Linked DNA regions of Homo sapiens. The protein of the gene in region 1 purifies or fractionates together with the protein of each later gene. This does not show direct contact. Each region holds a gene or a part of one and is shown on either strand. Other genes may lie near its edges.

The links. The genes of interacting proteins can lie anywhere in the genome.
Region 2: the proteins of DOCK4 (region 1) and ELMO2 purify together in Homo sapiens (affinity purification with mass spectrometry; 2 studies listed by BioGRID and IntAct, with this or other methods). This does not show direct contact.

Annotation. Positions count from the first base shown.
Region 1 is NC_000007.14:111,727,399-111,734,424, forward strand, and holds part of DOCK4 (dedicator of cytokinesis protein 4), read right to left. Parts: intron 4,890-7,026; coding exon 4,828-4,889; intron 1,323-4,827; coding exon 876-1,322; 3' UTR 1-875. UniProt on the Homo sapiens protein: Functions as a guanine nucleotide exchange factor (GEF) that promotes the exchange of GDP to GTP, converting inactive GDP-bound small GTPases into their active GTP-bound form. Involved in regulation of adherens junction between cells.
Region 2 is NC_000020.11:46,382,605-46,389,630, forward strand, and holds part of ELMO2 (engulfment and cell motility protein 2), read right to left. Parts: intron 6,617-7,026; coding exon 6,435-6,616; intron 5,187-6,434; exon of another isoform or gene 5,096-5,186; intron 4,834-5,095; coding exon 4,734-4,833; intron 3,672-4,733; coding exon 3,520-3,671; intron 891-3,519; coding exon 812-890; intron 1-811. UniProt on the Homo sapiens protein: Involved in cytoskeletal rearrangements required for phagocytosis of apoptotic cells and cell motility. Acts in association with DOCK1 and CRK. Was initially proposed to be required in complex with DOCK1 to activate Rac Rho small GTPases.

The DNA.
Region 1 (7,026 bases):
TGTATTGATTCCTGAATTCTTGCTAATGGGGCACAGTCATTTGTGCCTCATTAATACTTCAGCATTTGCTCTTGTTCAATGACAAATTTTATATAGGAAACTATCAAGAAAGGAAGCGCAAAATTCAAGTAAACATTTCTTCTGGAGCCTCTTGCTTAATCTAGCTGATTGGAACTCTGAAGCAAATTGCACCTTGAAAAGAAATACAGTAGATACCACGGTGTCAGGGTAGTAAGGGATTTAGCTACCAATTCACAAAATAGAATTTTACGAATGTAGACAGCAGTCAAACAGCAAAAGCAACCTTAAAGAAGTATTTTGTTTCAAGAACAAAACAATTTCCAGTCCCAAGCTTTGCAACCCCTTAAGTATACTGTCTTGCTCGCCTGCTTGAACTTTAATTCTGATGATCTGCACTGATAAACCTTGCCTTATTTACAGAAGTCTTCTAAAATAAGGACCACTGTGTTAGGATGTGCACTGACTTAATAAGCTTTCTCCAAGTATCAAGTATTCAGTAAAAACGATACAACATTGTCACACATTGTATCGTTTGACAATATCGTATTGGTTTTAAGATTAAACTATATAAAAAAAAGTGAACATAAAAAGGTACAAAAGGAGTCTTTATCACTATTTACCACTTCCAAATGAGAAACGTTTTAATGAAATTCAGCCATACTTCATTTAACATCTGGCGTTTTAGATCAGCAACTTTTAATATTGTGCAACATGATATTTAATAAGCAAGTTTTAATTCCATTCATCGAAGGAGCTGAGTAAGTTATTAAAGTGCCTACACTAAATGTCTTCTCATCATACTTCTTATTTTGTAAACGGGCAAAGAATGCATCGCAGGTACATAGAAAAGTGACTTATAACTGAGAGACCTTGCGGGGCAGGGGCCTGGGCCGCGGGCCGGGGTCAGTCCTCCGGGCCCCATTCTCCAGGTGGCTGGATCGCGCTGCCAGAGGCTTGGGGGGCAGCGCGGGCGGCTCCGACGTGACGGGGATGGAGAGGCTGTGAGGTAGCGGGACGGGGCGCCGCAGAGTCCGCTCGTAGACGCTGTACGGGGGCGGAGTCTTGCTCTCCTTGCGCACTGGCTCCTCCCCGCCGTAGCTCGGCACGGGCACCGGCACTGGCACCGGCAGGGGGGCCGACTGTTCATTCACCTGATTTTCAAAGCCTGAGGTTTCCGACGTGCTGCACCGGCTGAGAGAAGAAATCCCACTGCTGTAGCTGCCCGACAAGACAGGGGAGTTGGAGATGAGTCCTGGCGAGTGGTACTCCACTGGAGAGGGGGTGAAAGACTGCACAGAGCCCTGCTCCGGGGAGAAGGAAACGAGAGGGAGACACAGCATTGAGTCGTGAACGCAGATGCGCTGAAATGTACGCCCCGACGCGGAGGCCCCGGCCCCCAGCACCCCCAAAGCCGGCTGCAGCAGGAGATGCAGCCTTTAAGGAGGTGATTAAGGTAAAAGGCCATTATGGTGGATCCTAATCCAAGCTGACTGGTGTCCTTATAAGAGACATTTGGACACACAGGGAGACGTCAGGAATGCGACACACACAGACCTTGCAGGAAGGGCGGTCTGCAAGCCCAGGAGGGAGGCCTCGGGGAAACCAAGGCTGCCACGCATTGATCCTGGACTTCTACCTGCCAGAATTGAGAAAATACATTCCCAGTGTCTAAGCCACCCAGTTTGTGGTATTTTGTGAGGGAAGCCCGAGCAGACGAATACACTCACACTCAAATTTGAGTGTTGTCCTTTGTAGCACTGAAAATGCACACCAGACGTTTATCTGCGAGGGCCACCAGTCCTCGAGTTCAGTTCACCGCCCAGTTTACTCCTTATCATTTTCAGATAGAGGAGAAAGGAGCTGGGCATGGTGGCTCACGCCTGTAATCCCAATACTTTAGAAGGCCGATGCAGGGATCACTTGAGGCCAGGAGCTTGAGACCAGCCTGGGCAACATGGCAAAACCCCATTTCTACTAAAAATCCAAAGGGTTAGCTGGGCGTGGTGGCTCATGCCTGTAATCCCAGTTCCTCTGGGAGGATCACCTGAACCTTGGGAGGTTGAGACTGCAGTGAGCCGTGGAGCCACCAGTGCACTCCAGCCTGGGCAACACAATGAGACCCTGTCTCAAAAAATAAATAAAGGTATCCACCAAGATAATCTGGAGGCACACATTAGTCCTATAGTTTGGAAGAGAGGGAACTGGCCAAAAACCCCAAAAACCTAAAAACGCCATAAAACCTTTGGGGGCGCTATTCACTTTCCCAGCTCAGCAGGGCATGCTGCAGGCCAGGAGCCAGGGCCGCTGAGCACACTCAGCTCAGAAGACCCAGAGAGCTCAGGAGGAGGAGCAGAGGCACCCGAGGTTCTGCACCTGATTTCTCCAGCCATCACTCCAGACTCCAGACTCCTGAGCTGAACTGGCGAACTGGCAGCCCTCGGGGCTGTAGCCTGTGATGTGAGCTGTTTCCTCAGCAGTTTTTTAAAAACCTAATTTAGTTAATTTTTAACATTTCAAATTTCACATGAAACTCCAGAATTCTGGCAGTTCATAAAGAACTAGGAGTTCTGGCCACAATGGCACACATTCTCTTAATAGAGATAATCTTTAAAAGCTGAGAAGGGCTGTCCCTTTTCACTTTGCCAGTCCCCACTATGCCACGTGGGGACTACACCCGGCCTCCTTCATTTGTGTCAGCTGTCTGGCCCCATTTGGCATCTGAGTTTGTTACTTTCCCAACTAGTATCCCAAGGAAAACGAGTCCTAAGATAGATGCTCTGTGAAAAGAGGGTTCCGCTGGGAAATGCTGCACACTGTATACTCCTTGTGTATATTCAAAACATATTCGCATTTTCAAGGCTTAGAATAAAGGAATACAAATAATTTTGTTCAGTCCAGTGTTTTCCAAACTTACTTGACTATAGACCTTTTCTCCCCCGCTTATTACATAATGTCCTGGAAAACTAGTGTTCTATGGTATACACTTTGAGAAATGCTATCTTCTTAAGCTAACTTGACTTTGGTTTCTCTTTGTAAACAAAATAACGCTGGTAGATACACATCCTGTCATTTAGTAGGAGCCTAACATTAAGGCCAATTAAGAGTTCCCAATTCACTGCTACCTCTGTCAAAAGTTAGACCTGAAATTCAAAATATGGCAGGTCAGCTCAGTCTTCGCTGTAGGGTTAGACCCACAGTTTGATGGCTGGCTGGGGTAAAAAAAAAACCCAAAACCCCACTAAACTCTTATCAGTTAAGGCAGCACACTGCAAGGCTAGTAACATGGTAGCAGTGTGCCCCCTAATGTAACCCAGGAGGTATAACACAAATGTTCGATCTATGTTCTCTTCCTTCAAACCCTACATATAAAGACATGGCTTCGAACTGCATATGGCCAGTAAAAATGTACACAGGTCTGCTGAGAGACAGTATATACCAGCTTGCTAAGACTATTTTATAGCTATTCAAACATTTTTAGCTCTTGGGTTCTTTTTAATGTTTAAGAATTAATCTCTTAAGACTTATTTTCTTACTACCCAACAAAATTTAAGTTGAAAAATACAGATGATAATTCCATAGCAACGTGTGGGAGCTCTGTGTGAGTAAGGGCAAATGTAAAAGTGCGGAAAAGCCATGTTGCTTTCCTTTCTATCACATCGAGGTGACAGGCTATGACTTCCAGAGTGAATGCTGTCACAGGTACTTCATAATAACAGCTGCATTACAGAATGAGAACAAAACGAGCAAATCACTTGCACTTACCCGCGAATTTCTACGTCAGAAATTCTGGCAATGCAAGGGAATCACACTTCTTTCAATTTTCTCCATTTTGCGGGGGGAGGCGGGTTGTTTTCCCGTTTCTCAATTTCTATCAGCAACTATCGTTAGCACCACAGATGCACTGGATCGCAACCTGCCCCTATGTGTTTGTAGAGGCTAATTTGTCTTTTGCACATTAGCTAGAACTAGCTCATCACACAAAGGACATGGAGCGTGTAAATCCTAAGTCACTCAGGTACAAAATCATTCTTTCGACACACTTCATATTTGCCTCTGGTGCAGCAGTTCTGAACACCAATCTCTCACGTACTGACAATCCTTGAAGCCGGTCTGATTCAATTTGGATAAGACTAAATATTATTCTTTATCTTCATGAGGGATTTTTTATGTTTAAAGATGTTAAATAGCCCATGTCTACAAACCAATTCGAATGTCTGACCTTTACAGCTTTCCAGTTTGTTCCCTAGAAATCTTTTAAATCCATATTACTGCCTTGTTTTTCATGATCAAGTATGTATTTCTAATGTAAATGAGAAACTTGGTATAAAATATTAACAGAGAATGTTAGGTTTGGCTTTGACAAAATGGGTTTGGCTGACGATAAAGGCAAAAAGACACAGAATATTTAGTAGATCTTGATACTGATGTTTCTCAATCTAAGTGTGTGTGTGTGTGTTTGATGTACCTTAAACTAAAAGGCCAGGCTGAAAGTTTCCTAGGAGGTACATTAGGACCACATTCCTTTCCTAATTCAGTATATGCACTGACTTCAGTCTGCAAGTTCTCACTGCTACCATTTGGAGAATGAGGCTAATAATCGAAAAACAAATGGCTGCGTTTGTGCAGGAGGCACCCAGAAGGGAAAGTCCAGTGTTGTTTTTCTCAACCAGCTTCCCCTATCCCTGATTGATAAGTTCTTTGCCTGGTCCCTGCAAATTAAAGCACCTTTTGATATATCTGGGATGAGTCTTAGAGAAAAAGAAAACTGGGCCAGTCTCTAGCCTCAGTCGAAAGAAGGGCCTTTACCTTCAATGGAGATCGCCCGGCAGGCGAGGGGGATACTGATGTCGTGTGTCTTGCTGGTGAAGCTGTCAATGGGGAGAGAGATAACATTTCAATTAAGAAAAACCAGACGATTGACTATCTGCACATGCCCTCTGTGTTACAAACCCAAACAGATGATCCAGTGCATAAGGACCTTCTAAGCAAAGGGGGTGGTGAGGATGGGGGAGAAGCTAAATGATGCCTGTCTAGAATGGGTTCTCACAAAGGGTGGCACTGCCAAGATATGGGAGCATCAGTGAAAAGTTATCATGGCATATATGATGCTTTGACTATTGACAGGTTCCCAAACTGATCCAATGTCCTTTCCGTTTCCCCAAAGTCCAGGTGCTTCTGCACTGCTTGATCTGTCTCATAAGGTGCTTTTAGGTGTGAGATGCTAGGGAGCAGTTCTTGGGGAACAGCTGTTGACTTTGGCGTGAGCACCAATGGGAACACCATGGCCACCCCAGCAGCCTGGAACAGGTCTACGGGAACATATTTAATCAGCTCCCCCCAAACAACCCCAGTACTCCCCAAATAGGTAGAAAACCCTTGGCCATGGCCATACAACAGGTGCATGGTTTTCCATTTCTTCCCCTAATGCTTGTACTCAGGTCTTCCCATTATCCCCTGGTGGTGGGTCTCTATGGATTTCATCATCGTGGCCAAGAAGAGTGAACTGTTTGCTTTTTCTCACTAGATTTTCAAGTCCTACACCTGGAACACAGCATGTGTGATAGCACTGTTCCTGTGTGCATGCTTGTATAGCAAATCCAGCTCTCTAAAGCATAGCCCTGTATGGTAAAGGCTGGCGTGACACAGTCAACAGGGTGAGAGTCAGCCACATTTCTCAATTCCACAGAGACGTTTCGGTGAACTCTGGGTATGTCGCTCTGTGATTAGCTGCTACTCTCCCAGCTGTCACAGTGAGGTTTGCAACTCACAACTACTGAAAGGCTGTAAGAAAGAAAGACAGTTACAGAGCCCCACAACAGTGACCACAGATGATGACATAAGAACAGACCATGAGAGCAATCAGTGCAGAAGGGATGGCAGCCCTGCCAGTTAACTTGGGAGGGGTAAGGTCATCTGTGTGCTCTGGGTCCTAAGGGGTCAGTGAGAGTGCTCCATGATCACACTGGTAGTGTGCAGCCTCTCTCTTGCACTCTTGAATGCTGGGGCATGCTGTCAGCACGTGTCACATTCTAATACCAGCCTTAGTTCTCCTATCCTGTTGATCGTGGGTGCTGATTATGGAAGAAAATCACATCTGTATGGAGAAGCTGATCCTGACGGAGAACTATGTTCCTGCCTTAACGGTGGTAGAAAGTTGATTGTTCCCTAGGACCCTCTTCCTCCTGACTCAGGCAGTTGCTGACACCACCATGGTGGCCCCTGCAACCACAGCATATTTGCATCAATATTATTCCTTAAAAAATGCTTTTCAGGTTCTCAACTTTAGGGACACAACCAGGTTTAAATTGGAGACTGCCTGAATATATGTACATCGTGAATGAGATACAAATAGTTTGGCCGATAAGTTTTAGGCCTCTGTACACATACTGATATACTAATGCAGGTGATCAATAAGCTTAAAGTTATTTCTTGTTTTCTTTGAAGACCTCATATGTCTCTCAAAAATTATTGGTGACTTGACTTTTGGCTTTGACAAGTATAGAGTAAACTAGGTGGCACATAGTTTATTGTGTTTTGTGGCAAGGTCTCACTTTGTTGCCCAGGCTAGAGTGCAGTGGCTCAATCTTGGCTCACTGCAACCTCTGCTTCCTGGGCTCAAGCAATTCTCCCACCTAAGCCTCCCAACTAGCTAGGACTAGAGGTGTGTGCCACCATGCCTGGCTAATTTTTGCATTTTTTTTTGTAGAGATGGGGTTTTGCCATGTTGTACAGGCTTCTCTCAAAACTCCTGGGCTCAAGTGATCTGCCTGCCTTGGCCTCCCAAAGTGCTGGGATTACAGGTGTGAACTACCTTATTTGGCCCAGGCTGAAGTGCAGTGGTGCCATCTTGGTTCACTGCAACCTCTGACTTCTGGGCTCAAGCCATCCTCCCAAGTAGCTGGGACTACAGGTGTGTACCACCACACCTGGCTAATTTTTATATTTTTTGTAGAGACGGGGTTTTGTCATGCTGCCCAGGCTGGTCCCAAACTTGTGAGTTCAAGT
Region 2 (7,026 bases), on another chromosome or scaffold:
GGTTACAAACACTTGTCCAGCCAGCAGCAGGGAGAATACTTAGTCCCAGGCCCCTCGGCTCTTAGGTCAGTGTTTGTTCCACCACCCAGCTGATTCTTAGTTTCCTTATTTGTGAAACAGGGATCTTGTTTTTCCTCAGACATCCTTGTGAGGTAAACAAGGCAGATGTTGTTGCTCCCATGTGACAGGTGAGGAAACTAAGGTTCACAGAGGCAGAGCTATCTGCATAATGTCACAGTTAATGAACAGGGGAAGGAAGATGTTTAGAATCTCCATCAGAGAACCTTTAAACCTAAGATTTAGTGTGAAATCCCATTCATATTGGACTCCTTGGACTCAGGGTAGCCACAGGGTCTCCTCTTCCTTATTCTTGATTCTGTAACCCAGGAGTTGGCAAACTATGGCCATATTAGGCCTGTTGCCTGTTTTTGTAAATAAGATTTTATTGGAAGACAGCCATACCCATTCATTTACCTACTGGCCGAGGCTGCTTTTGGCTACAATGGCAAGGTTGAGTAGCTATCACATAGACCATATGGCCCATAAAGTCAAACATATTTATTCTCTGGCCCTTTAGAGGAAAAAGTTTGAAGGGCCCTGCTCTCATCTAAGACCCAGCTGGTTTCCCCTCATAGGTCTTCCCTGGGTCTTCCTTAGCAAAGCCACCCTCCTGGGCTCCAGACCAGACAGCTAAGAGGAAGAACTCTTGGGAAAATTGCTGGATTTGTGCTCTCTGCATAGCAAAGAGTGCATGGGGTGAGAATTATCTCAGAAGAGCCCAGATGAAAAATGTGAAAAGGCAGCCACAGACCTGTCGTTTGTCCTCAGGAGCCTTCAGAAAAAGTGCATTAATCAGTGCAATGGCGTAGGTCTGAATCTCCTGGTTGGAGCTGTGTCAATGGAGAAAGAAGAGAGAGGGAGATTAGAAGACTGAACAGCAAGATGATGCTTAGAAATGGTTTAAAACAATCACTCACAGATTATAAGCAAATAATGATCTGGAGCTCAGTCTCAAAAGCATTCAAAGTGGGCATGCTCTTGACCCAGCAATTTCACTAATAGGAATTTATCCTAAGACAGTAATCAGAGAGCTATGCAAGATTTACTGACAAGGCGTTTCATTAAAGTACTACTTAAAAAAGAATGGAAAGTAATCCAAATGGTCACATTAGCCAACATTTATACATATGAGAATCTTAAGTAGTTATTAAAAGTCATGTTTTAGGGTAAAGATTCTTAACCTGGGATTCAGGGATGAGCTTAGAGTATTTGTGAACCCCAGGAATGATACAGAAATTATTCTATGTAGTTTGCCAACTAAGTGGTATTTTTTCCAAACTGGTGAGAGTATATACTTGTTACCAGATTTTCAAAGGTGTCTAGGTTGCAAAAAAGACTTAGAACTACCCTTTTAGAAAAATCTTTGACATGGAGAAATGTTCAAGGTGTATTATTCAGTTAAAAAAAATCAAGGTACACATAGTATATATAATGAGATCCCGATTTTGTTAAAAATATGCATAAAAATACTGAAGGGACATTCAATTTAATGTTTAACAGTGGGTATGTCTGGAGGTGAGATAATGGGCAAATAATTTTGCGTTTTTCTGTATTTTTAAAGTCTTTGACTATAAACTTATTTTATTATGAACAAACAAAATAACTACAATCATTCTCTGGAATCTTACAATCCTGGTACTTGACATCTCCACCTGCCATGTCTTGGGTGCATTCTGTGGCTGTCTTTCCAGAGGGTCTGATGGGCTTCCTGGTTAGTCACATGGTACCCAGGGAGTCTAACAGAGGGCACTAAGTATCCCTCAGCCCAAAAAGGAAAGCATATAAGTTCTGGTGACAGCTGTGGGCTGAAAGTATTGGCTCCTATGAAATGCCATGTTCCCCTATCATCCCTAGGGAGGCAACTGGGGCCACTCTGAATTCAGAGACAAAAAAAAAAACCAGAGAAGTAGATGTGAGGTTACAGGAAAATCAGAATTCTCTATCTGGAGTTTATAATGTCCCTCTCACCTTAATCAACCTTGGTGGCTCGCTGGGTATGAAAGCTGAGGCTAGACCAGGCATGGTGACTCACACCTGTAGTCCCAGCTACTCAGGAGGCTGGGGTGGGAGGACTGCTTGAGCCCAACAGTTTGAGACCAGCCTGGACAACACAGCGAGACCCTGTCTCTACAAAAATAAAAAAAAAAAAAAAACTAGCCAGGTGTTGTGGAGTGTGCCTGTGATTCCAGCTACTCGGGAGGCTGAGATGGGGAGGATCGCTTGAGCCTGCAGTGAGTTATGATCATGCCACTGCGCTCCAGCTTGGACGGCAGAGTGAGACCCTGTCTCAAAAAAGAAAAGCAAAGAAAGCTGAGGCTGAAAATTCCTTAAAAGTGACAAGGAGAAATCAGAGTTGCAAAGAAATAATTGTGCTTTCTTTTTACTTGGATTAGTGGGGAAAAACAAGTTGGGAGCATAGCTGAGTGAAGACAGGGCCACTATAAACTCCCAAATCTGGGAGCTATGACTTCCCCTCGAACTGGTGGGGGATTCTGGCAACATTCTGACAATGTCTAAAAAACAGAAGTGAACAACAGTCAGAAGAGAATCAACAGGAGTGCCACCACTGTTTTGCAAAGTCCAGCTTCCTTACATGGTGTAGGTTGGTTGGAAGTGAGGTAAAAACAGCGGAGACGGGAGAAACATTGCTCCAATGGGTTCATTTGTCATATGGTCTCAGTATCTGGTAAAATGTTTTAGGATGTGATAAGAGTCTTAACAAACAAACAAAGGAAAAAAGCCCCTGAATTTACTGAATACCTAACCCAGGTTGGCCTCTATGCTGGACCTTTTTAAAATCTCCTTTGATCCTCACAGTGTGAGAGGTGAAGGTGATTAACCTATTCTAGAGATGAAGAAACTGAGGCCAGAAGAGACTAGGTTACTTGCTGATGGCAGAGACCTAGTATGCAGAAGAGCCTGGATTTGAACTGATATTCCAAACTCACACCTGTGTGATATTTCTTACAAATCACCCACAGTGCATCGTCGGTTCAGTGAGCATTCATTCAACAAGCACTAATTGAGCCTCTACTTAAATCAAAACAGGGGATACAACAATGATTGGTCTCTGTTTCAAGGGGGCTCTATGTTCAAAATGGGCAACAGATAATAAAAATCCAGTATTTTATATAATTATCATAGGTACAGAGACTACTGGGCCCATGTGAGAAAGCATCTAATTTTGCCTGGTACCACCCTGGTATGGGAAGACTGGGAAAATCTTCATTTTAACCTAAGGGGCAGAGAGAGTTACAGAGGATTTTGGGCAGGAGCATGACATGATCAAGTCTGAATGATGGGAGAAATTCTGGCAGGAGTGTGGAAGAGGTGATGAATGAAGAAGCCAACCAACAGCTTGGAATATAAGCAAAGGAGAGTAGGATTGGAAGACTTAAAATAAGAGGAGAAAAGAGGACAGACAAGTGAAGGGAGGGAGGTGTAGGGTTTTTTACTCACACCTGGAGGTGTGAGATGAGCTGTCCCACGGTGATTTCCTCGGCTATCTTCTGGTACAGACTCTGGCTGTTCAAGACCATGCTCTCCAGGATGGCCAGGGACCTCTGAAGGATTGACACGTCCACCATGGGCTGGCTCACATACCCTGCAATCTAGACCCAGAGATGGCACATCAATTGAGAAGCTCAGGGCCCAAGAAAGATAGAAGCTTAGCATCTGATGCTAGCCCTTGAAGCTCTCTCTGCTTCACATTTGGGCAGCTGTTGCTAGGTGGATAGTGGTATCTGGTTTACGGCTACCCTGGCCAATGTGCCAGGGATTCCCTTGGCATGGATACCTTAATCTCAGATTATAGTATCCACTTAATTGTGTTTCCTCAAAATCTAAAAGCTTAATTCTTTTTATCAAAATAAGGGTTCCAGTTTGAGAAAGTGGGGTATAAAAAAGCAGAGGATTTTACTGATACTGGGATCTCATTTTATCTCCATGTACCTCCCCTGACACACACTCCCCCTAAACACACTTAGACTTTGAGAGGTAGAAAGGACCTTGAAGCCTTTTACTCTAATCCTTCTTCTCAGTCCCCATTATAATATCCTTGACACATGGTCATTTCACTTGTGTCCAGTGTCGGGGAGTCCCAATGTCCTAAGCCAATGATAGCTGAAGTTCTAGGGCAGCAGATACAATATTATTCATTGGTTTTAGTTCAGTATTCTGAATTGACACTGCTCCTTTGTGTAAAAGAAAGGAGGGTAAAACCAGAAGTACCCTCTCCTACCCACTGAACTTAGTCTGACAATCCAAACAGGCTACCTTGCAGATTTGTAAATAGAAGGCAAATTTACAAATGAAATGCAAATTTTTTTTATATATATACAAAAAGAAGAGAGAGCTCAGGAAGTCGGTCAAAAGACTCAGGGCTAGTACTGGTTGACTGGCTGGCTTTATCCCCAGTCTCACTGACAATCTAATTCTACTTTGATCATATTTAGTTCTGACGGTCCAGTTCCATCTCAGTGCAGGCCCTGAGAATATAACAAAATGCAAATCTTTCAGAAGCCACAGAAGACTAGAGCTTGAGGATGAAAAATCTGGCCCCAGGGAATATAAAGCTGATCTCACCAGAATGGCGATATTGCCTGTATCTCCCCTTAAGCCTTGTGAACTGGCAGCTGAGGGAGGAGAGAAAGACAGAATGTTGGAGGCCTCACCTGCTTAATAAAGGTGATTGAAACCATGTCCCAGGAGACAATGCCATGGTCCATGAGCTCTAGGAAGGCAGTCAGGGTGAATGCCAGCATCTCACTGTAGCTGAGACACGTGCAACACACACACAAAATAGACAAAGATTCAGATCGGGAAACACAGGTGTGAGGGCAGCCACAAAAAAGATGAATTTTAATGTGAACACCCCATGGGAAATCAGTCGATGCAACTGTAACTGTAAGTGCCTGTGTGCACACCTAGCCAGTGTAGAGCAGATTCAGCCCAGGTATCTATCGCTGCAAAAAAAAAAAAAAAAAAAAATGTTGCTGGGTAATTAGATCTTCCTTCTCCATATGCTTCATCCCAGGGACACAGAATCACTTATCTATTTCCCAAGACCAAAGAAGACATTGGACCTTTGTCAAACTCCAACACCTGTTGGGAGAACCTAAGGAAGTGTAAGTGCCATGTTAACCTTTGGGCCAAGAGGCAGTAGAGTGCAAGAGATGGGTTCAGTTCCTGTCCACCTTACTAACCAAGCAAATTTTATCTTTTCAAAATTCAATTTCTTCCTCTGTAAAATCAAGTTAGTCTCACAGCGTTAACCTCACAGGGTTGTGGAGACGACAAGATGATGATGTATGCAAAGCTCTTATTCTAGTGCTGGTAGAGAATAAGGATTAAAATGTTTTCTCTTTTTTCTCTTCTCCTTATACATTTAATCCTTTATACATCTGTACAGTGCTCTAGAATTAACAGATGATATTCCTATTTACAAAGCATGTTCAGACACATTCTCATTAACAATACTTCTCACAATAATACTGCAAGGTAGCTATTATTATCCTCAGGCTGAAGAGAGTGAAACTAAGGCCAGTCTAACCCTGTACCCTTGGGAGACTGTAGAACTATGTCAGTGCTGATGGCAGCTGAAGGCTTCAGGACTTCAATACAGCTGGAAGATCCAATATGTAAAACAAATATCTATGATTAGTTACTCGATTTGGCTAACAATTTCAATAGTTGATCTATGGGCTGAGAAGATTTCTGACTCCCTCTTTGGCAGGTTAGGCTCCAAGCACCTGTTTACTGACTGCTGCTCACAAGGCACAGCTGCCCACCGCATGCATGTGAACTCTGGGGTATGATGAAGATGCTTGTGGGTATCACAAAGTTCTGGTCTCCTCCTCCCTGTGCAAAAGTGTGGCAGGGAGATGGTGAATGGGTAGGTTGACACCTGTGGTAAACACAAAGGAAGGCGTGTGTGTGTGTGTGTGTGTGTGTGTATGGGCTGGGAGGTGACTGAAGAGGGAGGAGCAGGGGATGATTACAAACAGACACCTGGGAGATACTGGACCATCTGCTCACTAACCCTCATCAAACCAAACATTTCCAGCAATTAACAGGTCTGTCACGACGTGACTGCTCTCCTCCTGACTTCTCTAGCCCCTATTTTCACTGCTCACTTGGCACAGTACTGTTTTGTACTGTTATTTAATTTGTGAGAGCCCAAATAGACTACACGATTTAGAATCACAATATGGAATTATATATCTTGGTATGGACTCTAGTGCTTGGCACACTGCTCTGCACACAGGTGGTATTCAATAAACTCCTTATTTGACTCAAGGGAAATGAGACTAGGATGCCCTGTGGGATGTAGTAAATCGTCGAAGTCCTTGGAACGAGACCTTAGTCATACTCACTGGGACAAGAGCTTGGTTCCACTTTCCACGAGCCTTGTCAGCACAATGATGCCATCCATGTTGATGAACTCAGTAGCGAAAGTCACGTCGGCAGAGAGCTTGGCCAGCTCCTTCATGGCATCCAGCCGGGTCTCCATGTTGGATGACTGGGTCCTCTCCATCAGCTGGCGTGCAGCCCGGGACTAGGAGGCCAGGGACAAGATATGTGCCATCTGCTCCTTGGAGCAGGTTACTACTCTGTGGATAGCTCACAGAGGCCCTTCTGTGGACATCCAAACCTGAGGCAGAACTAGTTTTTTCACACAGCTTAGGAGTTGCTAAATAAATGTTTGTGGAATCAATCAGGGAGTTATTAGTATGCCAAAACCAATCTGTAGTTATCTGCATCTTTTCTGTACCGCTTTGGCCTATGGATTTAAAAAATTCCTACCAAGGGAATACTGGAGGCATCTGGGAGGCCCACTAACGATGGTAAGTCACAGAGAAACAGATACTGGTTTAATAGAGGAAGGTTTTCTATTTAAGCTGTCTTGCTGGGTGCGTGGCTCATGCATGTAATCCCAAGGCTTTGAAAGGCCAAGGCAGGATTGCT